Regions from separate parts of the Homo sapiens genome. Here all the other regions are linked to region 3. The links come from fine-mapping of genetic effects on gene expression. A gene starts in region 3. Each other region holds a variant in brackets. All regions are shown on one strand. Distances are between the middles of the regions.

Region 1 (8,406 bases), 100 kb after region 3:
AAAAAAAGGGATGATACTATATTGTTTTCAAGGATGACAAATTCCTTCTCACTCTGTCAGTTATTCCACTATAACCCATTACTGCTTCAAAATAACCAAAGATGAAGCATAAGAGAAAATTTGGTAGAATAACTTGTGTTGGACCTTCTTCCTCAGGCACAATTGGTGAAAGACCGAAACTCAATGCTACGATTGACCAGCATTGGCTCTGATGAGGACGAAGAGACAGAAACCTATCAGGAGAAGGTGCACATGACTTGGACAAAAGACAAGTACATGGCATCCCGGGGACAAAAAGCGAAGTCAATGGAAGGATTCCAGGACCTGCTTAACATGCGTCCGTAAGTTTTCCCACTCCCAAGTTTATCATAAAATTACCTAATCAGTGGCACAAATGTGACTTTGCCTGGACACACAGGATGGAGTCTGTTCATTTCACCCTGAATCTAGCCACCTCATTATTGTTTGCCTGTTCATACTGGCTCCCAATGAACACTGTACACAAGCTAACCATCCCCTCTATCCACATAGTTCACCTCCATACTGTGTTCTTACTATAAAATAAGCCAACAGAGAATGAGAAAACCCAGATATTAATATCATAAAGAAACCATTTTAGCCTGGGCACAGTGGCTCACGCCTGTAATCCCAGCACTTTGGGAGGCAGAGGCGGGTGGATCACCTGAGGTCAGGAGTTCGAGACCAGCCTGCCCAACATGGTGAAACCCTGTTTTTACTAAAAATACAAAAAAAATTAGCCGGGTATGGTGGTGGGGGCCTGTAATCCCAGCTACTCGGGAGGCTGAGGCAGGAGAATCACTTGAACCTGGGAGGCGGAGGTTGCTGTGAGCTGAGATTGTACCATTGCACTCCAGCCTGGGTGACATGAGCGAAACTCCCTCTCAAAAAAAAAAAAAAAAAAAATCATTTTATCAGATTATCCATAGTCAAGTGAAAAAGCTCAGGATCTCAAGTTTTTAACGTTGACTTTATGGCTAGTTGTCTTTTTACCTTAACAACCTTTATTTCTTCCCCACTCAGGGACCAGTCCAATGTGAGGCGGATGCATACAGCAGTGAAACTCAACGAGGTTATAGTTAACAAGTCCCATGAAGCAAAGCTGGTTTTATTGAATATGCCAGGGCCACCCCGAAACCCTGAGGGTGATGAAAACTGTATCCTTTCCAAGAGTGGGGCTTCCAGTAGGGAAAATCTCCTTAACCTCTTTCTGAGATAACTAGGTAACAATAAAAGTCATTGTCTATGCCCCACTTTCCCTCTTTAAGGAAGGGAGACTTAAAAGTCCTAGGCAAGGATTTTTACAAAGTTATAAGATTAAACTCTTTTAGGGGAGTTGGGGCAAATATAATTCAGTTCTAGTTTTAGGTGGTGTATTTGCAACATGACATCTAATATTCAGTGTATAAAACCCTTCCTGACAATCCTACAGACAGCATACCCACATCCTTTCGCCTTTTTAGGTTCTACCCGCTTTGCAAAGCCTTTCTTTTGGATAGAGTTAGGGGAGAAGCTGAGATAGAACCTCCTTTAACTGAGGGGAAAAAAGAGATAGGGATTCTTCCTCATACCTTCATCCCAGGACTCCTGGGATACGGGAAACCCTTCAGCATTGACACATAAATTAGCTTATTCCCACCAGTACCATTAAGAAAGAAGAGGTTTAGGCCAGGTGTGGTGGCTCATGCCTGTAATCCCAGCACTTTGGGAGGCTAAGGCAGGTGGATCACCTGAGGTCAGGAGTTCGAGACCAGCCTGGCCAACATGGTGAAACCCCGTCTCCACTAAAAATAGAAAAGTTAGCTGGGTGTGGTAGCAGGTGCCTGTAATCCCAGCTACTCGGGAGGCTGAGGCAGGAGAATCACTTGAACCAGGAGGTGGAGGTTGCAGTGAGCCAAGATCGCACCATTGCACTCCAGCCTGGGCAACAAGAGGAAATTCTGTCTCAAAAAAAAAAGAAAGAAAAGAAAAAGGTTTAAAAAGAAAAAGACAAACCGAACTGGCAGAAAAATCTGACTTGAGCAGCTTCACTTAGAAATTACTTGGGTTCTCTCTAGGAATCTTGTTAGCTGCCCTATTGTGGCTTTTCTTCTTCTTTCATCATTTTTATCTTATTTAGAGTAACACTTCTAGGTTTTCCCATTTTTTAAATACACAAATGGGAGTCTGGTATTATGTATGCAAAAGGACTGGATCTCTGGTTACTTCACAGGGTTAAATTCAATCCAAAGTTCAGACTTTTCTGAATATATAATAATTAAGCAGCTAATTTTGTAGCTCTATGATCAGATAACCTCAGATTATGATGATGCCAGGTTTTAAGTTTGTGCTCTTCTTTTGCCTGTCTCCTTGACAAGTTTTGAAGACATGGAGTTCCTAGAGGTGCTTACCGAGGGACTAGAGCGAGTCCTACTTGTCCGGGGTGGTGGCAGTGAAGTGATCACCATTTATTCATAACCTACTCTGAATGACCGTGCTTGACCTGTTTTCTTAAAAGGCCTACGTCCTCCATGGAAGTGCCAGCTCATTACTACCACTCCCACTCAACTAGAAGCCTGTGTTCTGTACACATCATACTGAACTCTTGATGAGCTGAGCCTCAAGTACCTGTGTAAAAGAGCTCCCATCTGATCTGCAGTCATTACAGAAAAAGCAAATATTCCCTCAACATCAGAACAATGCTCAAGTCTTTCAAGCCACGTCTGAGCAGTCAAAGGCAAATTAGAATTAACAAGCTGAGCCAATAAATGAATTGGTAAAAGGGATGCTAGAAATTCAACTGAAGAAAAAAAGCAAGTCAAGTACGTATTCAGCATTAAAGATGAATCTCAGAAGTCATGGTTCAATGTTGACACTGTGAGGATAACAACTAGAGACAGCTTCATCTTACTAAAGAATTTATGGTCAAGTATATTTGGACCTATTATCCTCGGCAAGCCAAGATGCAAACATTTTTTAGCTATATTTCTTTAGTATACCCACTGCTGTAATTTTATATTAGGATACTAACTTGAAACATGGCTGCAGCCTCTACTTCTTCAAAAACATCCCCCCAAAATACCAGATTTAAATATCCAAATACTGTGTCAGTGTATACTTCAACTGTTTTGTTTCTCTTAACTCAAAACCCATTCTGTCATTGTAACACAGGCAGTGTTACCATGGAAATTGTTTTTGGTAAGGTAAAAATTATTTCTTTCAGGTTCCTTTCAAATGGCCGAACTAAGAGAACTCCAAAAGGAAGCTATTAACATTTACTGAAATAGTCTGTGGTTCTCTATACAACATGGACAAAACATACAAGCTGTTGTCTAAGAAATGCAGGTCATGGTGCACATTAATCAACAGGTTCTTCTCCCCCCGCCCCCACCCCCGCGCCTTTTTTTATGCCCTCTTATTAAGCACAGGTCAAAAAATCTTAAGGAACAAATACTAGGAAAACTGGCTAAACATCCTTCCCTGAAAGCACTGGACCATCTTTTAAAGGGCACATCTAGCAATGGAATTGGAAGTTCTAGAGCCACACTCTTTCTTTAGTGCCAACGTTACTGAGCGGCTACTCTCCTTACCTACTTTACTAAAATGGCATACAGATTGGCATTGACCTGTTGAAGAAATTTTACCACTAAGAAATCTTTTGCCTCATCTACAAAGCCATAGTTAAGACTTGAGGCATTCAACTTAATGCCAAGTATAAGCATTTCCCCCTTTTTCTTTCAATTTTATTCTTCATTCTGACTACAGAAACTTGGCCCTGAACTACGAGATTAGCCAAGCCAACAGTCTTCTAATTTGTTTTCAGAAACTTCAGGCCGGGTGCCGTGGCTCACACCTGTAATCCCAGCACTTTGGGAGGCCAAGGCAGGTGAATCACTTGAGGTCAGGAGTTCGAGACCATCCTGGCCAACATGGTGAAAACCTGTCTATACTAAAAATACAAAAATTAGCTGGGCATGGTGGTGCATGCCTGTGATCCCAGCAACACGGAAGGCTAAGGCAGGAGGATCATTTGAACCCAGGAGGCGGAGGTTGCAGTGAGCCAGGATTGCACCTCTGCACTCCAGCCTGGGTAACAGAGTGATATGTTTCAAAAAGAAAGTTCAGTGTGCCAAGGAAATACTTGTGTAAGCTCAGCTTTTTATTTACTAATATACTGATCAAACATCTGGCTTACAAGCATAGGGAAACTACTTATGTGGCTGGCTGAGCAGTAATTTCAAGTATGTGAAATCTTCATTTCTTTTACAGAATAGTTATTTAGAGAAACTTTTCTTGCCTGTATTCATGGCTGTTTTTGAATTT[C/G]AATTTATTAGTCATAAATAGTGCCACTCTTCTTTGATTACTAAATAGGACATGGAGCAAGCTGACCTAGGTGTCACAAATTATTCATTTGACCTGTAAGGACAGAGAAAACCCTTCAATATAGCTTAAGAAATTGAGTAATTTTGGGCCGGGTGCAGTGACTCACGCCTGTAATCCCAGCACTTTGGGAGGCCGAGGCAGGCGGATCACGAGGTCAGGAGATTTGAGACCATCCTGGCTAACACGGTGAAACCCTGTCTCTACAAAAATACAAAAAAATTAGTCGGGCATGGTGGCGGGCGCCTGTAGTCCCAGCTACTTGGGAGGCTGAGGCGGGAGAATGGCGTGAACCCGGGAGGTGGAACTTGCAGTGAACCGAGATTGCACCACTGCACTCCAGCCTGGGCGACAGAGGGAGACTCCATCTCAAAAAAAAAAAAAAAGAAAGAAAGAAAGAAATTGAGTAATTTTGATTTGTTCCCTTTGCTTGCTTCAACCTCCAGGCCCACTGAGGATGGCAAAGCGGATAGGATCTTAAGTCTTTTTTTCTGTTACTTCCTACAGATGGTAGAAGCATTATTTACAACTCCCACTGCAACACTCCATTGCTTAGTTGAGTTTAACAGTAGTGAGTCATGTCCTGCAGGATCCAGTATCTTTTTTTTTTTTTTCCGAGACGTAGTTTCGCTCTTGTTGCCCAGGCTGGAGTGAAATGGCACAATCTTGGCTCACCGCAACCTCTGCCTCCTGGGTTCAAGCGATTCTCCTGCCTCAGCCTCCCGAGTAGCTGGAATTACAAGCATGTGCCACCACACCCAGCTAATTTTGTATTTTCAGTAGAGACGGGGTTTCTCTACTGAAACTGATGTTGGTCAGGCTGGTCTCGAACTCCCAACCTCAGGTGATCCGCCCGCCTTGGCCTCCCAAAGTGCTGGGATTACAGGCGTGAGCCACTGTGCCCAACCAGGATCCAGTATCTTAAAGGCCCATACTGTAAAGGTCAGCCTGCCTAGGAATTCTGCCACATTTACACACACCCCTGGCCAAAGTAATATTTTTTTTTTCCATGTAGAACAAATTATGGGCAGAAAGTAAAGTTAGTTTTAGAAGTGCTGTTTGTGGTTGGAGAATTGTAAAAATCTTTTAAAGGGATAAGGGAATTAGTGGCTTTTAATATAACCACTGCTTCAGCCCGAAACACAAAATCACTGTTACATGGAAAACTGGTTATTAGGCCAGATTTATATTCATGTCTGTCTAGAGTATTTCATGTGTGTATGTGTTGCTTACGTTGTCTGTCTCCAAAGTCTCTCATCTCTTTTAATCACTGCAAATAAAGCAATACTGAAAACTTGAGAGAATGCACCTTAGGGGAAGGGGCTATTTCAAGACAGAAAACAAAGGAAATACCTGCCTTTTGAATAAGATCCCGCTTTTGAGTCTTACCTATGACTTTACCAGGGTAGATTAGAAATACACATCCTCCTGCTGACCCTCTGCCTTCAATAGCTATCTATCTTAAAAGCTGAAGTTTGAACTGCAGCATCTGCTTGACAGGTGCCAGGTTCCTTCGGCAGGGGGACGATCACTCTATATATCTTCCGTTGCCTCAGATTCCTGTGGCCCAAGGATCCCACCAATCCTCGTTCCCCCTAAACATGCTAACAAAAATCCCTTATCGTGGGTATTAAAATAATAACAGTTACACTGTATGCATATTTATGTGCTCCTTTTGTCTGGTTTTTCTTTTCATCATGTATAAGCTGAATTCAGCATTAGTTTCTCACATCTTCCCCCAGGTATCCCCAACAGAATTTTTATGTCCCAGCTTGTATTAAATAGAAGTGAAATATTAAGGAAAATAAGGAACTTGTGCAACTTTTTTTATGCATTGTTCTCAACCATTTAATTTATTGAAAGGAGATGCTGCAACAGTTCTTGATTTAGCAGCAGTTATTCTCTTGTTTACATAGTTATGTTTTTTTGTTGTTGTTTTGCTCTGTACTGGAAACAAAAATAAAGTTTTCTACATTATTTTCAGCCTTGGGTTATGGTATAGTTTCTTTGTGTTTGTCGTAATATGCACATTGTCCTTCTAGGACCTGTCACCCCACCATGGAGAAAAGAGTCTTTTGGTTCTTTTTAACATAAGTGATTAGTTTAAGAGTATGCTGAGGAGCCACTGGGCTTAAAGAAGGATGTAAATAAGACCCAAATACATAGGGACCAGGCGCTGCTTTCTCATGTTCACAAAAGCAGTCCTCCACCACTGAACTCCATTCTCTGAAAGAAGAAAGAAAGAATAAATAGGTGAGTGGCAAATGAGTGTTAAAATAACTTCCTGAATCAATTACTTAATACTTTAACCACAAGCTCTATTTTGCCTATCCTTAAAAAAGAACTTCCAGGCCAGGCGCAGTAGCTAATCTTAGCTAAACACTTTGGGAGGCCAAGGCAGGCAGATCGCTTGAGCCCAGGAGTTCAAGACCAGCCTGGGCAACATGGCAAAACCCTGTCTCTACAAGAAATACAAAAATTAGCGAGCCATTGGGGTGCACACCTGTAGTCCCAGCTACTTGAGAGGCTGAGTGCCTGAGCCCGGAGGTTGAGGCTGCAGTGAGCCATGATCACATGACTGCACTCCAGCCTGGGTGACAGAGCAAGACCCTGTTTCAAAAATAATAACTTGGCCAGGCATGGTGGCTCACACCTGTAATCCCAGCACTTTGGGAGGCCGAGGTGGGTGGATCACCTGAGGTCAGGAGCTGAAGACCAGCCTGGCCAACATGGTGAAACCCTGTCTCTACTAAAAATACAAAAATTAGCCAGGTGCAGTGGCAGTTGCCTGTAATTCCAGCTACTAGGGAGGCTCAGGCACAAGAATCGCTTGAACCTGGGGGGCGGAGGTTGCAGTGAGCCAAGATCACACCACTGTACTCCAGCCTGGGCGACAGAGTGAGACTCTGTCTCAAAATAAATAAATTAATTAATTAATTAAAAATAATAACTTAAAAACTCCTAATGGCTCTTATTTTTTAAGAAACCCTAGGCCAGGCGCAGTGGCTCACGCCTGTAATCCTAGCACTTTGGGAGGCAGAGGTGGGCAGGTCACTTGAGGTCAGGAGTTCAAAACCAGCCTGGCCAACATGGTGAAACCCCATCTCTACTAAAAGATACAAAAAAATTAGCTGGGCATGGTGGCAGGTGCCTGTAATCCCAGCTACTTGGAAGGCTGAGGCAGAATAATTGCTTGAACCCAGGAGGCGGAGGTTGCCGAGATCATGCCACTGCACTCCAGCCTGGGCGACAGAGCAATACTCCGTCTCAAAAAAAAAAAAAAAAAAAAAAAGAAACTCAAATACCAACTCCAATTTCCTACCATCAAGTAGGTCAGCTATTCACTGTATACTACAACTACCCAAAATTCAGCTTTTCTTTTGCCTTACCTCAGGGGGCTCAATGAAGGCTAACCAATCCGATGCATGTGTAGGTAACAGTCCCATGGACTGGCACTTGTAAACAGCCAATGCCAAACCCATCAGGTTCCCAATGAGATAGACCAAACCCTGAAGAAACTTCTGGCTTGAACTTTCTAACATCTTGAAAGCTGTTGCGGTAACAGAAGTTGTCAAACCAAAAGAACTCTTTCCCCCAATACGAATCAAGCCAACTGTATATTAAATTCATATAGACAGACCCATAGTAAGACAGCAAATAGGACCATTAAAGGCAAACAGAAAACCATGGTAAGCACTACACTCCCCTCCATGCCACCACCATTACCCCACTCCCCTATATACCTGTTAGCCAAAAACTGTCCCTAAGAATTTACCTTTAATTCTTCCTTTTTTTTGAGATGGAGTCTCGTTCTGTCACCCAGGCTGGAGTGCAGTGGCACGATCTCGGCTCACTGCAACCTCTGCCTCCCAGGTTCAAGTGATTCTCCTGTCTCAGCCTCCCAAGCAGCTGGGATTACAGGCGTGTGCCACCACGCCCAGCTAATTTTTGCATTTTTAGTAGAGACAAGGTTTCACCATGTTGGCCAGGCTGGTCTCGAACTCCTGCCCTCAGATGATCCACCCAGCT
Region 2 (8,410 bases), 33 kb after region 3:
TTAGAAACAGTGAACCTATAGTAAAAGCCCTAAAAGTTGTCTCCATCTTCCCCTTACTTCATTGCCTTCGTTCATATTTTTTTCTTCATCTCAACTTTCTTCTCTTCTGCTGTTTCCTGCCTACAGTAAAAAAAATTACATATACCCACATTCAGTTTCATTACTTCAAGACCAAGTTCATACTTATTTCCTCCAAGATGACTTTCCTAATCTTCTACTCCAACTTTGATTATATCATTAATTGGTATTAATGGGTGGACATGGTGACTCATGCCTATAATCCCAACACTTTGAGAGATGGAGGCTGTAGACCAGGAGTTTGAGACCAGCCTGAGAACATAGTGAGACCTCATCTTCAATTTTAAAAATAAAAGAAAAATGTAAAAAACAAAGAAAAATAATTGGTATTTATCAGCAGTCAAATATTCTTGCAGTAACACTGTAATTATATTTTATCTCTTCACCTGTATTGAGGGTGAGACATAGTGTTTTAATATTTTTCTGAAAATTACATATTTTATTTTTTATTGTGGAAATTTCAAATTCGGAAAAGTTTAGTGAACTTCCTGTTCATGTCTGTTACCTGTAGGTATTCTTCTTTATTTTTTAGATATGCTTTATATTTAGGGATGTCAATCCCTTTGGGAAATAAATTCCAAATGTTTTTCCCCATCGGTATTTTTTTATCGAGGTGCAGTTGACATAAAGTTAACTGTACATCTTTAAGGTGTATATTTTGTTGATGAATTTTGACATTTATATGCCCATGAAATAATTATAATGAAGATAGTGAACATTTTCGTCACCCCCAGAAGTTTCTTTGTGCCCTTTATGCCCCACTCACCTAATTCCTTGGTCCCTAGGCAACCACTGTTCTCTTTTTCTGTCACCAAATTAGTTTGCATTTCCTAGAATTTTATATAAATGTAATCATACAGTATGTACTCCTTTTGGTCTGACTGCTTTTATATAACAATTATTTTCAGAGTCCATCTAATCAGTTTCCTTTAATTTTGACTTCCATTAAGATCTTCCTTATTTCTTAAATTTTTTCTTCAGAACTTAATACTTAGGGCAGTAGTTGAAAACAATGCAGTCCACAGATGTTTGGACTTTACAGTGGCACTTTAAATTTTTGACTTACATGCCAAGATTTTAATGCTTTTAGGATTAGTCTGTAAACAGGACTGACTTTTCAGAGTGAGTTCTGGGAAGGTGGCTACTTGAATATCTCACTATCCCTCCATTCCTGCTTCCAGCCTGTATCTGTCAATCTTGAGTGAAGTGGCTCCTGGATCTGATGAACAGTTGGTGCAATTGAGGCCATGGGCTGTGTGAGAACTCTGTCAGGGAGAGTTGGTACAGGACTTTTCCTCTAGACAAGAGCCTGGAAAATCTCAGGATAAGCATAAGAATGGCAAATCCAGGAAAGAACTTGGTTTGGTAGATATCCATGAATTCCTGGAGGGAAGGAGAAAAGGAAAGAGCCATGGGTCTGAGATCTTCCCATCCCTGTGGCTGGCATATGTAAGGAGACCTGAGAGCAGGGAGGCTTCCTCCTGGGCCTCCACAAGGGCTGGTGGCTTGCCTGCTGCAGCACTGCCTACCCACAGGGGTAGAGACTGCTTTGCCTTTCCATTTTCTTGAGACTGCTACCGCTTGTGGTCCTCCAACAACTAAATCTCATCCCCCATGAGGTGACAAAGATAAACAACCCATCTGGGGAAGCCAGGCAACCTGAAAGAGAAAAACCACTTAGAATAAACAATATATTGAGTTAGCTAAATAGAAATGCTGGAGGAGGCTGGGCACGGTGGCTCACGCCTGTAATCCCAGCACTTTGGTAGGCCGAGGCGGGCGGATCACGAGGTCAGGAGATCGAGACCATCCTGGCTAACATGGGGAAACCCCATCTCTACTAAAAAAAGATACAAAAAATTAGCCGGGCGCGGTGGTGGGCGCCTGTAGTCCCAGTTACTCAGGAGGTTGAAGCAGGAGAATCACTTGAACCCAGGAGGCAGAGGTTGCAGTGAGCCGAGATCGCGCCACTCCCTTTAGCCTGGGTGACAGAGCGAGACTCCATCTTTAAAAAAAAAAAAAAAATGCTGGAGGAGAGAGAAACTTGAACATGAAAATAATAATGGGCCACATTTAAGACTTTATGGAACAAAAAATGTGATTTTTCCACCTAAATAATTATTATCACCTGACTCCATTTATCCTCACACACTTATTTTTTTTAAAACTATCTCTGCTAGAGTGTAAGCACCAGGAGAACAGGAACTTTTTTGTCTTGTATTCACTGCTAATCTGTTGTCAACTCTAATACCTAGAACACTGTCTTACACATAGTAGGCGCCCGAAACATAATTATTGAATAAAGGAATGAATGAGTATGAACAATTATTGACCTGGAAGATCAAGTAAAATAAATATTTCAAAGCATGGAGCCAAAAAAAAAATACAAAAAAAAAAAACTTTTAAAAAAGAGACCTATTGGATCGATTCAGGACACCTAACATGGCTAATACAAGTTCCAGAAGAAGAAAAAGGAACAAATGGAGAAGGAATAATTAAACAACATAAAATTATTTCCTGAGCTAAAGACTTCAGTGTGCAGAATGAAGTTCTGGGGGAGATCAGTGATGAAAAACACATACATAGGGATATCCTTGTAAAATTTTTGAGCTCCAAGGATTCACCTTGGAGGCTTCCAGATAGAACAGGTTGCACCTATCAAGTAACAGACTGGAATCAGAATTCTAATTCACAACACTGGAAACTAGGAGATGGTAGAAGAGTATTTACAGATTGGGGATTTCACAATCCCAAATCCCTATTTCCCTTGAAGATATTTCTCCCCTATGAGGGGAAACATGTTACAACTATACAAAAATTTCAAGGATATAATACCCACTTAACTCCTCTGAGAAAATTCAAGAAGGGGTTTTAGCCAAATAACAAGTGACCTAGAACAGAGATCACATGATGAAAGGGATAGAAATAATGGAAAATGACAGACTCTTTGGGAATGTATTATGTAAATGCTAAGTAAGGTTTTTAACCAAAGGATGCATAGTTCAGAGAACAATAATATTTACAATGTGATAAGTAAGTCAGGGCAGAACCTCAAAACTGTGGGAACAAAAGGAAGTAACAGCTTTCCAATTAAGGTGAGGAGAGGAAAAAGCACCAATATGTACATGAAAAGATGCTCAACATCATTAGTTATTAAAGAAATACACATCAAAACCAAAATGAGGTACAGTTTTTTCACACTCACTGGGATGGCTATAAACAAAAAGACAGATATCAAGTGTTGGAAAGGATGTGAAGTATTGAAACTCTCATCTGCTACTAGTGACAATGTAAAATAGTACAACTACTTTGGAAAACAATTTGACAGTTTCTTAAAAAGTTAAACATAGAATTACCATATGTCCCAGTAATTAAGTGTATTTCCACACAAAAACTTGTACAGGAATGTTTATAGCAGCATTATAAATAATAGCTAATAAAGAAGTAACAGCCCAAATGTCCTCCAGCTGACAAATGAATAGATAAAATGTGATATAGCCATATAATGGAATATTATTTGGCAATA[A/C]AAACAAAGTACTGATTCCTGCTATAACATGTGTGAAGCTTGAAAATGCAAGTTAAGGAATCTAGTTGCAAAAAACCCCAAACACATACTGTATGATTCCATTCGTAGGAAATGTCCAGAATAGGTAAATTTATAGAGGCAGAAGTTAGATTAATGGTCGTTTAGTCTGGATAGGGTTGGGGAGAGTGAGATGGGGATTAGCCTGCTGATGGGTAGAGGGTTTCTTTTAGTGGGGAGACAAAAATGTAAAATTAGATTGTGGTGACAGCTACACAACAGTGTGACTATATTAAGAAACACTGAACACTTTGAGTGAATTATATGGTGTTGTCTTAGTATGTTTCATGCTGCTATAACAATACCACAGACTGGGTAATTTATAATGAATTGAAATTTATTGACTCGTGGTTCTGGAGGCTGGAAAGTCCAAGACCAAGGTGCCAGCATCTGCTGAGGGCCTTCTTGCTGCATCTTCCCATGGCAGAGGGCAGAGAGGGTAAGAGGGAGTGAGAGAGAAGGGGACCAAACTCCCTATTTTGTTACAAACTCTCTTGATAATGACATTAATCCATTGTTGAGGGTGGCTTAATTACCTAATGGCCTAATTACCTCTAATTAGTCCCCCACCTCCCAGTGATGTTGCATTGGGGATTAAGTTTCCAACAGATGCTTTTGGGAGGATATATTCAAACCATGGCAGGTCTGTAGTTTATGTTTCAAAATGTATTTTTTTTAAAGAGGAACTAGTGTTGATAATACACAGCAGCTTGCATGAATCTGCAAGGCATTAGGCTCAATGAAAAAAAGGCAGTCTCAAAAGTTTATATATGATTCCATTTATATTTTCTAAATTATTGAAGATCATGACACATTTACTATTCAAAGTATACACACTAAAAACAATGTTTTTAAAAAATTCCAGAATACAGTATATATAATAATAGTTTCTAGTTTAATGTCTGGGTTTAAAACTTTAGGAAATGTTATGTTCAGCCTACATTAAGCAGTTAACCTTTGACTGTAACATGAAATCAATATAGGCTCTTAAAATATTGGAAATGTTCACAGTAGTCTCTTAGTCCCCCTAATTCCCCTTTTAACTCCTTAGTTCCTAATTTGTTGTTTAGGCCAATTTTCTCCCCTTCTTGTTAAGAAGATAGTCTCTTATGGTCATGTTTATTTTTCCAAAACCATCTTTAAAATGAAAATGTGAAATATGTTTCCACAGTGCATGAAAAATAATTTGGATCATCCACAAGACCAAAGAATGACATAATCTTTTTTTTTTTTTTTTTTTTTTTGAGACAGGGTCTCCCTTCTCCCGTCTGTCACCCAGGCTGAAGTGCAGTGTCATGATTATGGCTCATTGCAGCCTCAGCCTCCTGGGCTCAAGCAATCCTCTCACCTCAGCCTCCCAAGTAGCTGGGACTATAGACATCCACTACTACGCCAGGCTAATTTTTAATTTTTTTGTAGAGACAAATCTCCCTGTGTTGCCCAGGCTGGTCTTGAACTCCTAGGCCCAAGCAATCATCCCACCTCCACCTCCGGAAGTGCCAAGATTATAGGCATGAGCCACTGTGTCACCCAGGCTGGAGTGCAGTGGCACAATCTCAGCTTACTGCAACCTCCGCCTCCTGGGTTCAAGCAATTCTTTTACCTCAGCCTCCCGAGTAGCTGGGATTACAGGCTCCCGCCACCACACCTGGCTAATTTTTGTATTTTTGTAGAAATGGGGTTTCACCATGTTGGACAGGCTGGTCTCAAACTCCTGACCTCAAGTGATCCACCCGCCTCGGCCTCCCAAAGTGTCAGGATTGCAGGCATGAGCCACCACACCTGGCTAGCCCATAATCTTCTTTATACATAATTTTCTTCAGTAATATTTGCAACAGCCTCAAGATCCATCCTCCTTTGTTATTTCTTAGTAAGTTTTTTTTCTTCTTTTTTAACTGTGTAGGTACAGTCCTCTTGTATCATTTATACTTTTCTTGACTGACCAGTTTGTGGATTTGGCCCAATAAACTCTCTTTATATTATACTTTGGCCTTTATTAAATCTACTGTCTGGTATTACTCTCACCATCTTCTCAGTGTTATAGGCTGAGAAGAAAATTACAACCATAGGTTGTATAAGTTATAGGCTGTGAATTAGAAGTATAACTATCTTCATCACTGCTGAGTTCTTCAACTTCTAGTGGATTTATCTCCACATATTTGGAAGAATTTCAACACAACTTAATCTAATGTATTCAGAACACAGTTTACCTCATTTGCATTTTCTTTATACAAATCTGAGCTCAAACAAAAAGTGGTCTTAACATTTCTCTTGCTTGGGACACTCCACTAAATAGCACTGGTTTGCTTAAGAGCCTCTGTTAATCTAATACTTATTCTTAGCATATGTACTGGATTTTGAAGGACATTGTTGATGAGTACCCAGTATTAGTGGCAGATCTGCAGGCTGGTCTCGAACTCCTGACCTCAGGTGATCCGCCCACCTTGGCCTCCCAAAGCACTGGGATTACAGGCGTGAGCCACCACGCCCAGCCTTGTCTGGCTGTCTTTTCTTTAAAATAAGTCAGATGGATCAAAGAGACGATTGCTAAGTAAATTCACATACAATTTCTTCAGGATTCATGTGTTGTGTGTTCTGCTCCATAGGCATGTTTGGCCCTACATTTTCACTACTTTCTACCTTAATTACCATTTTCTTCCTTCTAGTATCTAGACTTGTTGGGAAAAATTGGAATGACAGCATTACAGTCATAGTGTCAATAATTTTTTTCCCTCTGTTTCCTTCTCTAGCATTCTGAGCCCTTGGTCTCAGGTGCTTTCTCTTTCCATTGGCTTTTAGGAAAGTTCATCCTTCTGTCTTCAGCTCTTATGTTTTGATGAGGACTTTGTTTCTTTGTTTCCATCATCAGCCTTTATTAAAACTAATCCTGAATTTTGGTCTCTTGGTATTTGTCTTTGAAATCACTTCAACATGAGTCAGTTAACAAACATGTTGAGGCCGGGCCTGGTGGCTCACACCTGTAATCCCTGACCTCACCTGAGGTCAGGAGTTCAAGACCAGCCTGACCGACATGGTGAAACCCTGTCTCTACTAAAAAAGACAAAATTAGCCAGGTGTGGTGGTGCATGCCTCTAATCCCAGCTATTCAGGAGGCTGAGACAGGAGAATCGCTTGAACCTGGGAGGCGGAGGTTGCAGTGAGCCGAGATCGCGCCATTGCACTCCAGCCTGGACAACAAGAGTGAAACTCCTTCTCAAAAAAACAAAAATGTTGAACATTTTATAAATGTTACATGAAGCTCTGTCTGTATTACATGAAGTTGTAATTGTCACAGCAACGTTAAAACAAAATTCTTGTCTCAAAATGCTTATAATGGGCAGATAGGACCCCTGCCCCTCATGCCCCCAAACCTGCTCCTCTCATTCTTTTTTTTTTTTTTTTTTTTTTGAGACGGAGTCACTCTGTCTCCCAGGCCAGAGTGCAGTGGTGCGTCTCAGCTCACTCACTGCAATGTCTGTCTCCCAGGTTCAGGCAGTCCTCGTGCCTCAGCCTCCCAAGTAGCTGGGACTACAGGCACACACCACCATGACTGGCTAATTAAAAACTTTTGGGTGTGTGTGGAGACAGAGTCTTCTATGTTTTCCAGCCTGGTCTGGGCTCAAGTGATCCTCTTGCCTCAGCCTCCCAAAGTGCTGGGATTACAGACATGAGCCACTGTGCCTAGCCACCTCCTTTCATTCTTAATCCTGGCAGCTGTGTTATGGCTAGGGGTAGGGGAGTAGGGGAATCTCACAGCCATGAAAACTGATACCACCATAAATTCATCATTTCCAACAATGTTGTACTGTCGACACTATTTAGACATTCTGTGTGATTCTAGTTAGCTTCCCTTCTCAATCCTTACAGAGTTAAAATGCTTAAGACCTCAATCCTCCATTCTCATATAGCTAAACCTTCTACTTCACAGAGTAAACTGTATTTCTTTATTTCTAATATTCTTCTTCATAAGTTCTTACCAGCATCTGTGTTGACACCTATCCTTTACCACCTTCCTTGTTGTCGTTCAATATTGATCCATACACCTGTGCTCTAGAACCTTTCTTGCTTCCTAACTCTTGTGATTTCTAATTTTTTTATTGACTCCTTCCCCCTTGATATATTACAATATTCAATCTCTCTGTCACTCTTTCCTTTTCTTTCTCGCCGATTTTTGCTCATTTAGTCTTCCAAATAATTCTCAAATTTGTCCCGTTCTCTCCATCTTCACTGCTACTATCCTAGTCCATTGTTATTTTTTGTCTAACCTCCTAAAGCCATCCATTACAGTAATTACCAGAGGAATTTTTCTCATATGTAAATCTCATCCTATTACTCCCTCATTTAAAACCCCCTAATGTCTCCCCATGCTGACAAAGTCTGTACTGCTTAGCAGGTACATGTACCTACACGATCTAGAACATCCCAGCTTAATAGCTTCCTTGTTTATTACTCTTTTGTACATACTGCACACCAGATATAATGAATGTTCTTGAATGTCTCTGTTGCTTTAACACATTTATTCCATCCTCTTGGAGTGTTCTTCAGTTACCTAGCAAACAATCTTCATGTTAAGACTGAGCTCAAATACCACTTCTTCCTTAATGGTCCCTGTGATCACTCCAGGAAATGTAATGTAATGTACACGCTACCATACTCTATGTCTACACCTCCAATATAGTACTTTAGTCACCCACTGCAATCACTTGTCTTACCCGTATGTGCTGTAAGCCCCTTAGGGGTAGCTGCTGT
Region 3 (8,263 bases):
CTCACCTCAAGTGATCCACCCACCTCAGCCTCCCAAAGTGCTGGGATTACAGGCATGAGTCACCACACCTGGCCTGGGTCTTTCTTTTTTTTTGAGATGGAGTTTTGCTCTTGTACCCCAGGCTGGAGTGCAGTGGCGCCATCTTGGTTCACTGCAACCTCCGCCTCCTGGGTTCAAGCTATTCTCCTGCCTCAGCCTCCCGAGTAGCTAGGACTACAGGCGCACACCACCATGCCTGGCTAATTTTTGTATTTTTAGTAGAAACAAGGTTTCACCTTGTTGGTCAGGCTGATCTCAAACTCCTGACCTCAAGTAATCCGCCCGCCTCAGCCTCCCAAAGTGCTGGGATTACGGGCATGAGCCACCTTGGCCGGCCTAGTGCTGCAGATTTTAAAATTGCTTTGTGGAGTCTGTATTTTAATTCTGCAATCTTTATTTTCTATGATAAAAATTCTAGATTCCAGAAGCAGATATAACTTAAATTAGCACAGATGTGATTTATGAAGACATACCCTGGAAATACTTTTTTTTTTTTTTTGAGTCAGGTCTCACTCCTGTGGTCCAGGCAGGAGTGCAGTGATGTGATCACAACTCATTGCAGCCTCTACCTCCCTGTCTCAAGCGGTCCACCCCATTTTTAAATTTTTTATAGAAACGAGGTCTCACTATGTTGCCCAAGCTGGTGTTGCACTCCGGGCTCAAGCTGTCCTCCTGCCTTGGCCTCCCAAAGTGTTGGGATTACGGGCGTGAGCCACAGTGCCCGGCCAGACTTTGCTTTTCTTGGATCTTGCTATTTGACCATCCCAGCAGAAAAGTTCAGGATAGTTGTGGGTTGCTGAAAAGAAAAAAAAAAGTCTCTCAACTGGAGTCATAATTAATAGAAGACAGATGATTTTGAAATACATTACTGAAACATATAGGAATGGTGAAATGAGATACTTGTTTCCTGTCAAGGAATTTTATTTCTTAGCCTGTTCACTTACTTGCAGGGTTCTTAACATTGGATCTGAAGGATTTTAAAGAGTTAACTTAGAGAAATTGTGAAATGGGATACTTGTTTCCTGTCAAGCAATTTTATTTCTTAGCTTGTTCACTTACAGGATTGGATATAACATTGGATCTGAAAGATTTTTAAAAGTTATCTTATCCAATTAAGGGGATAATGATTGGAGACATGTTTCTTAAGCACCAAAGTCAGTAAGTGAATTTTGCTACCAGTTTTTTAATGTTGGCTGCAGTTCTGCCTTTATCTTACAAAAAAGAAAAAAAAAAAAGAATTAGCATTGCTCCATGCTACCACCTGTGTAGACTTAAAAGCTTTAACCTGAAAATATTCCTAATGAATATAGAGGAGAGAAAGCAAACTGGCATGAATATAAAAAGGACTTTTTCCATAAGAGATCCCCTGAGGAATGAGGCTTCATTTTGCACCAGAGGCTGTGTCTCCCTGAGAAAATAAAGAGATCCCTGGGGTATTAACGTCTGAGACATACATTTATAGAGCTTGGTTAGTGCTCAGAAACAAGAAAAGTCTTAACAGGGATAGTATATTGGAATTAGGTGGTACATATAAGTAAATGCAGATACACTGGTAGGAAATTGGGTTTCATAAAAATTCTGTGTTTCTTTATAAAGGAAAAGTCTGAAGTTTGAATGAACGGCAGGCCTGCCTGAGGAAAAAATTGATCCTGCTGAGGATGGATGAAAGCTGTGGGCCTGAATCAAGAAACCCAGACTTTATAAAGAGTCAAACTTTAGGAGGTTTACACTTTACATTAGGATTTCTCATTTTGTTACCAGGATCTTTTTAACCTTTTTGATCCTTTAATCCTTGAAAGGATTTGGACTTTGTGTGTCATTTGATAAAAGAGAACTTCCGGGAATACAGTTCCCATTGCTAGGAGTGCTGCTTAAACATAACCACTTGTGAGGAGCCAAGACCCCAGGCAAAACCGGGGGCCAGTTTCTGGGCCCAGGTGATTGTTAAATTTAGAGGTCTTGATCACAGCTATAGGAAATAGCTTTTCAAACAAAACATTGGTGAGTCAGAATTTATCGAACACCACCATTTATACATTAAATAAACACTAAGAAAAAATATTCTAGCGACAAATGTAGTGGTGAAAACATGGAATGGATTTGAGAAAATACATCAACGTCTTCTCCAGGTATAAAAAAACGTATTATTTAGTGGAACTTTCAGTCTGACTAGAAAGTGGACATAGCATTTATTAAAAGGACAAGAACAACAACAAAAAATTAAAGTAGGACAAATGTGTTTAAGGTACTTTATAGTTTTATTTTTATTTATTTATTTCTTTGAGACGGAGTTTTGCTCTTGTCCCCCCAGGCTGGAATGCAATGGTGCGTTCTCGGCTCACTGCAACCTCCGCCTCCCAAGCTCAAGCGATTCTCCTGCCTCAGTCTAAGGAATAGCTGGGATTACAGGCACACGCCACCACGCCCGGCTAATTTTTGAATTTTTGGTAGAGACGGGGTTTCGCTATGCTGGCCAGGCTGGTCTGGAACTCCTGAGCTCAGGTGATCGATCACGCCCGCCTCAGCCTCCCAAAGTGCTAGGATTACAGTCGTGAACCACCGCGCCAGGCCTACTTTATAGTTTTAATTTTTTTTTTTTACATAAAAGTGGTTTATTTGTATGTAGACCTCTACATAAAAATTACAATGAGGGTTATTCCCAGGTATAGGAGCGGTGTTTCTGGTTAAAGAAATCATGAATGATGTTTTCAGAGACACTCATGAAAGAGAAATGGCTCCCCGGGTTCTGAGGGTGAGGAGCAGCGCCCGCCCTCTAGGATGCTTCCAGAGTGAGTGTGCAGCACAGCCGGACCGAGGAAAAGGATTATTCCCCTCTTCACGCGGGTCGGGCCGTGCCCTGGACTACAGCTCCCGTCGTGCCCCTGGCCACTCGTATTCGGCCCCGCCCCGCCTGCCGTGTCCCGCGGCGAGCGCAGGCGCGCTGCACTCGGTCACCGCGGGCTGCGGCGGCTGGGCGGGGCTTTCGGGCGCCCGCGGGACGGTTCCGCCCTCTCACTGCACCCCCGGGCTTCTCTTCGCAAGGTTCACCTCGAATGAGGAACAAGCGGGGAGGGAAGGGAAGGGCTGCGGCGGCGCGGGCGCACCCCGTCGGGCCCGGGGCTGGGGGAGGCCAGGTCACGTAACTGCTGCTCTGGCGTCGGGCCGGGGAGGGGGCGCCAGCCCCGGCAGCGCGAACCCTGCGCGCGCCGCGGCTCTGAAACAGTTACCGGCTAGTAAACAACAGCTGCGCGCGCACCCGCATCAGCTGGCGCCGGGATACTGCACCTGCGACCTCCTTCTCCCTCACCCTGCTGCCCAGTCAGGCCAGCCTGCGTGGCCGTCTCCTCCTCTACTGGGACCCTGAGGAAGAACGACGAGGGGGTGACCTGCGCCGGGGCGGGGGTAGGGGAGAACGCGCCTCCGGCAAAGGGGGTGGCTCGTCCTGTCACACGCAGGAGAAACCTAGCGAGCGGACCGTGGCTCAGTGGACTAGCTACGACTTGCCACGACTCTGAGCTGCAGTCCGAGGTGTCTTGATCCGCTAACCTCCTCCCAGACCCCGAGGACCTTTCTGCTAGGAGAAGAGCGGGCGCGCCACCCCCACCGACCTCTCGGAGACAGGAATCCGCTCTGCCCCTGCATCCTCCTCTGCTCACCCTTCTCTCAGTAGTGTGGGTTATTTTTCCCGTTATGCATGTGCACCTTTCCCACCAGACCCAAGTGGATTGTCGACATCAAAAACACCGGGTGGCTTTGCATACACCTCCCCCCAGCCAGACCTGTGGGGTATTCACCTGATACACAACAGGTGGCCGGGTGTACACCTTTTAGCAATCTGATCCACGCTATAGTCGCCTGATAAAGGTTTGCCTGCACGCACTTCGCCCAACTAGAACCGTGGGACACTCACCAGATAAAGGACTACCTCGACAGGAAACTGGGGGCTGAGGGGAGGGAGGCTTCATCTGCTGCCCTGAGACCATGGCACTGAGCCTTCAGCCCCGGACCAGAGGGGTTAGCTAGGTAGCTCTTCATTCTGAAGGAAAGAAGTCACACAAGATTGGCATTGTTTTGTCTTTTTGTTTTTTGTTTTTTTCTCTCTTAAAAAATATATTCACCTATTGGTGATGCACTTTCTAGGACAGTCGGCTTGAATTCTGAGTAGAAGTATTCTTAGTTGGGGCTTTTTGTGTGGTGTGAATCAAGGTTATTGAAATGTGTTATTTTTCAAGTTATCTTTTGTATTGCAGTCAAAAGTAGCTAGCGTAAGAGGAAGATTTTGCGAGGTTCCCCCCACTTTTTTTGTTCTTAAAAAGAACAAAATGCATCCTCCAGAAACCACCACCAAGATGGCTTCAGTTCGGTTCATGGTGACACCGACAAAGATCGATGACATTCCAGGTTTGTCAGACACCAGTCCGGACCTCAGCTCTCGATCTAGTTCCCGAGTAAGATTTAGCTCCCGGGAAAGCGTGCCTGAAACAAGCCGGAGTGAGCCTATGAGTGAGATGTCTGGGGCCACCACTTCGCTGGCAACTGTTGCACTGGATCCACCCAGTGACCGGACTTCTCACCCCCAGGATGTCATCGAGGGTAAGTAGAAACACAGACCGCAGCATACTTTCATTACTGGGTTCTTTATCCAAGATGACCATCTATGGATCTGGAAGATCATAATCATATAATTATGATTATAATAGTCATCAGGAACCAAGGCATCTCTTTGTGAGATGCTTAGGAACTCTTTGGAATAATAGCATAGTGGCTCTTTGCAGTAGTAATTTGGTATGTGGGAAGGTGTATGACAAGAAGGAAGGCAAATGTATATTTTAACTTCCTCATTTTTGTCTTCTTAGAAATGAAATGGGTATTTTGGTTAAAAGTGAATATCAAAGAATGTAATCGTTTTCAGCACACAGAATCCTAAATTTTAAAATTTAGTGAGTTGGATATGTGTTCTGTAGCCATCATTGGCTATTTCAGTCTGCTTTAAGACTGGTTTCATGGAGTAGTTACTGGTCGTATCTTAGCAGCTTTCCTCCAAGACTTCGAATGTGTATTGCAAAATTCTTTTTTGAAATCTGTATTTTTATGGAGACCTTGACACAAGTAGCTAAGCCCACTCAGGGTGATGGTGGGTAGACCTAATGTGCTATTCTGTCAAATGGAAGACTTCTGAAAAGGCTTTTAGGGCCTGATTCCCATGTAATTTATTCTCTCTGAGCTTTAGATGGAAAGTCTGATGATTAGAGTTAGCAGGTAGCACACAAGCCACTCCTGGCTCATGTTGACTGCTACAGACCTTTAGCTTCCTAAACCAGTTTGTGTGTGTCAGCTGGCTTGGTTTTATTTGAGGTACTGGGAAGAGGTGATGGAAGAGAGAGAAGAGAGAAAATGGGGAGATCATAACATTTTTTGGACTCTGAAATTTAAAAGTTTGAGACCTGTACTGCTTTATATATTTAGTTTTATGCTGTGTTGTAACTAATGTAATCTTTTAATGATAAAAATTTCCCTTAAAGACTCTTAAAATAATATTCCACCCAAGTTTGAAAACCATAGCCTCACCCACTGACTTGTGAAAGCAAGGCTTACTCACCATTTTCCGGTGTCAGGAAATATTGTTCCTTTTAACCTAAAGGGTTCAGGAAACCAGAATGATTTTAGTTCCCTAATTCTGTTTGTGTTTTTAGTATCTGGAGACAAGGTAGATTTGGTAAAGTTTACAGTCCTAGAATTCACTCATCCTTGACTAATCATTTTTTCTTTTATGGAGACATAGGTTGGTTCTCAGACTTTACTGTTTTCAACTTTTTGACAAATTTTACAGTGTGTCATACACTGGATTAAAATTACAGTATGGAATACAAATTTATCATTTCCTCTTCCTCCAAATTAATTCCAAATTGTGGTTTTAGTTTTTATCCATCATGCTGTATTTAGGTTGTAAAAATTCCAGGTAAAGACTATACCAGTGTTAATTTCTTAATATTGTAATTATCATTAGGTAATTTATAGTTTAGTTTGTTAGACTTGTGACTTACATGTTACAGAATTGTATTTTTATTCTTTGGAAAAGTGGACTTAGTAATGTGTTAGACCAGCAGAACAGGTTCCTTGTCCAGTCTGCGGTTCTTACGTTACCCTTAAGCATTCTTTACAGTCTAAAGTGGTATCCTTTTACACTATAGGGGTAAAAATGGGACTACAGGGGTAAAAATGGGGACATATCTAAGTGAAATTTATGTTTGTTTACGTGGTTACAGATGTTAAAAGCTTGGTTCTCTATATAACACATTCCTTACTTAATGTTTAAATATTCTCCGGTACCCAGATGAAAGGGAAATTAATAGTCTGGCCATTAGAGAGGACTTTGCCCTATTCTCGTGGAACTTTATACTTTCTCAGTGACCTACCTTTTCTCTTTTTTTTTCTTTCTATATTTAAAAAAATTCTTATGATGACTGTCATCATGTGATAAATTTTCCCCACCATTAGAAGAAACCACTTAGAAACACAATTATTTCACCCTTGACTTCTCAGTATGTGAAAGCCCTTGTTAGATTTAGATGTAGATCTTCAAAGGGTGCTGTTGTGAAGAAAAGGGCCTAATGTTAATATACACTTCCCTCTAGGCTGGCTTTAATATAGATAACAACTGCATCCTTTCTACAGTTGACTCTCCTTAAGCTCATAGTGCATTTCACAGTTAGTTTGCTATTTTAGTATTTACAGTTCTCTGAATTTTTTCACCCTTTGTACATCCTTCTGTGGTTGTGACATTAGTATGATTCTCCTTTCCCCCATGCCTCCCACGTTTCTTCCTGTAGAGAAACTTCCCACCCGAAGTTTCTTGTCATATGTCTTCTACTCACATTACATCACACAAACAGGAGGTGACACATGAAGTTTTTTTTGTTTTTTTTTTTTTTGAGATGGAGTTTCACACTTGTTGCCCAGGCTGGGGTACAAGGGCGCAATCTCCACTCACTGCAATCTCTGTCTCCCGGGTTCCAGTGATTCTTTTGCCTCAGCCTCCCAAGTAGCTGAGATTACAGGCATGCACCACCACACCTGGCTAATTTTTTGTATTTAGTAGAGATGGGGTTTCATCATGTTAGTCAACCTGGTCTCAAACTCCTGACCTCAGGAGATACACCCACCTTGGCCTCCCAAAGTGCTGGGATTACAGGCGTGAGCCACAGCGCCCAGCCCTACATGAAGTTTTAAATACTTATTTCAGTATATTTTAATTTTTTCTGCTGTTGGCTTTCTGAGTAGTTTTCTTTCTGCTATCAAAGTAATTTTTCTTTCATTTTGGCAAGGCTCCATTTGAATTTATAGGACTGTCCAGTTGGTAAAATCAAGAATCTTAGCAGTGTATTAGCTTATGTATGAAGAACGCCTTAAAGATACAAAAGAAACTGTTGAGAGTGGATGCCTCTGGAAAGTGAGTTACAAAAATAGAGTGGAGCCAGGCACGGTGGCTCACGCCTGTAATCCTAGCACTTTGGGAGGCCGAGGCGGGTGGATTCCCTGAGCTCAGGAGTCCGAGACCAGCCTGGGGAACACGGTGAAACCCTGTCTCTACTAAAAATACAAAAAATTAGCCAGGCGTGACGGCGTGCGCCTGTAATCCCAGCTGCTCGGGAGGCCTTGACAGGAGAATTGCTTGAATCCAGGAGGCGGAGGTTGCAGTGAGCTGAGATCACGCCGCTGCACTCCAGCCTGGGTGACAGAGCGAGACTCTGTCTCAAAAAAAAAAAAAAAGAAAAAGAAAAAAAAATAGAGTGGAATTTTCTTTTACCAAAACAATTAAGGGCATATACAACTTTTAAGTATTTATAGTGTATCACTTTTATAGTAATTTTTTTGAAAAGCACCACATGTTAGAGCTAATGATCTAGAATCTTATTCTGATCAAACCACATTTTAATAAGTGAGGAGACTTAAAACCCCAATAGATTAGACTAAAAAAATAACAAAATAAATGAGGAAACTAAGGCTTATAGAGATGGTTATTTGTAGATCACAAAGTGGCAAAGCCAAGACTGAAGTTCAGGCCTCCTGACTTTTATCTAGTGCTCTTTCTTGCATCATTTTGCCTCTGCTATGATGAACATTTTTTACATGTGCTTTATAACCATGTGGCTATAAAACATATTTTTATATGTCATTTGCAGGACCTAATACTTTTTTTCTTTTTCTTTTTTTTTTTTTGAGG

What was found.
Region 1: its variant is fine-mapped to the expression of SLC12A6 in whole blood (INTERVAL, PIP 0.99).
Region 2: its variant is fine-mapped to the expression of SLC12A6 in whole blood (TOPMed, PIP above 0.99).

Annotation. Positions count from the first base shown.
Region 1 is chr15:34,227,950-34,236,355 of GRCh38, reverse strand. EMC4 (ER membrane protein complex subunit 4) reads right to left here. Exons shown (of 5, transcript NM_016454.4): 4 at 7,767-7,927; 5 at 6,200-6,603. The coding sequence ends at 6,568. It overlaps SLC12A6 (solute carrier family 12 member 6), which reads left to right. Exons shown (of 26, transcript NM_001365088.1): 24 at 157-341; 25 at 1,042-1,175; 26 at 2,384-6,572. The coding sequence ends at 2,475. Among named protein-coding and RNA genes, the nearest start is that of EMC4, 7.1 kb to the right of the region's middle. The variant C/G (reference allele first, on the strand shown) is at 4,321.
Region 2 is chr15:34,299,453-34,307,862 of GRCh38, reverse strand. The region is part of intron 2 of SLC12A6 (solute carrier family 12 member 6); the gene reads left to right. Among named protein-coding and RNA genes, the nearest start is that of SLC12A6, 34 kb to the left of the region's middle. The variant A/C (reference allele first, on the strand shown) is at 3,605.
Region 3 is chr15:34,332,779-34,341,041 of GRCh38, reverse strand. SLC12A6 (solute carrier family 12 member 6) reads left to right here and starts at 3,261. Exons shown (of 26, transcript NM_001365088.1): 1 at 3,261-3,710; 2 at 4,290-4,632. The coding sequence starts at 4,362. RefSeq lists a silencer at 2,847-3,406 and enhancers at 4,696-4,815, 5,017-5,086, 5,147-5,196, 6,824-6,873.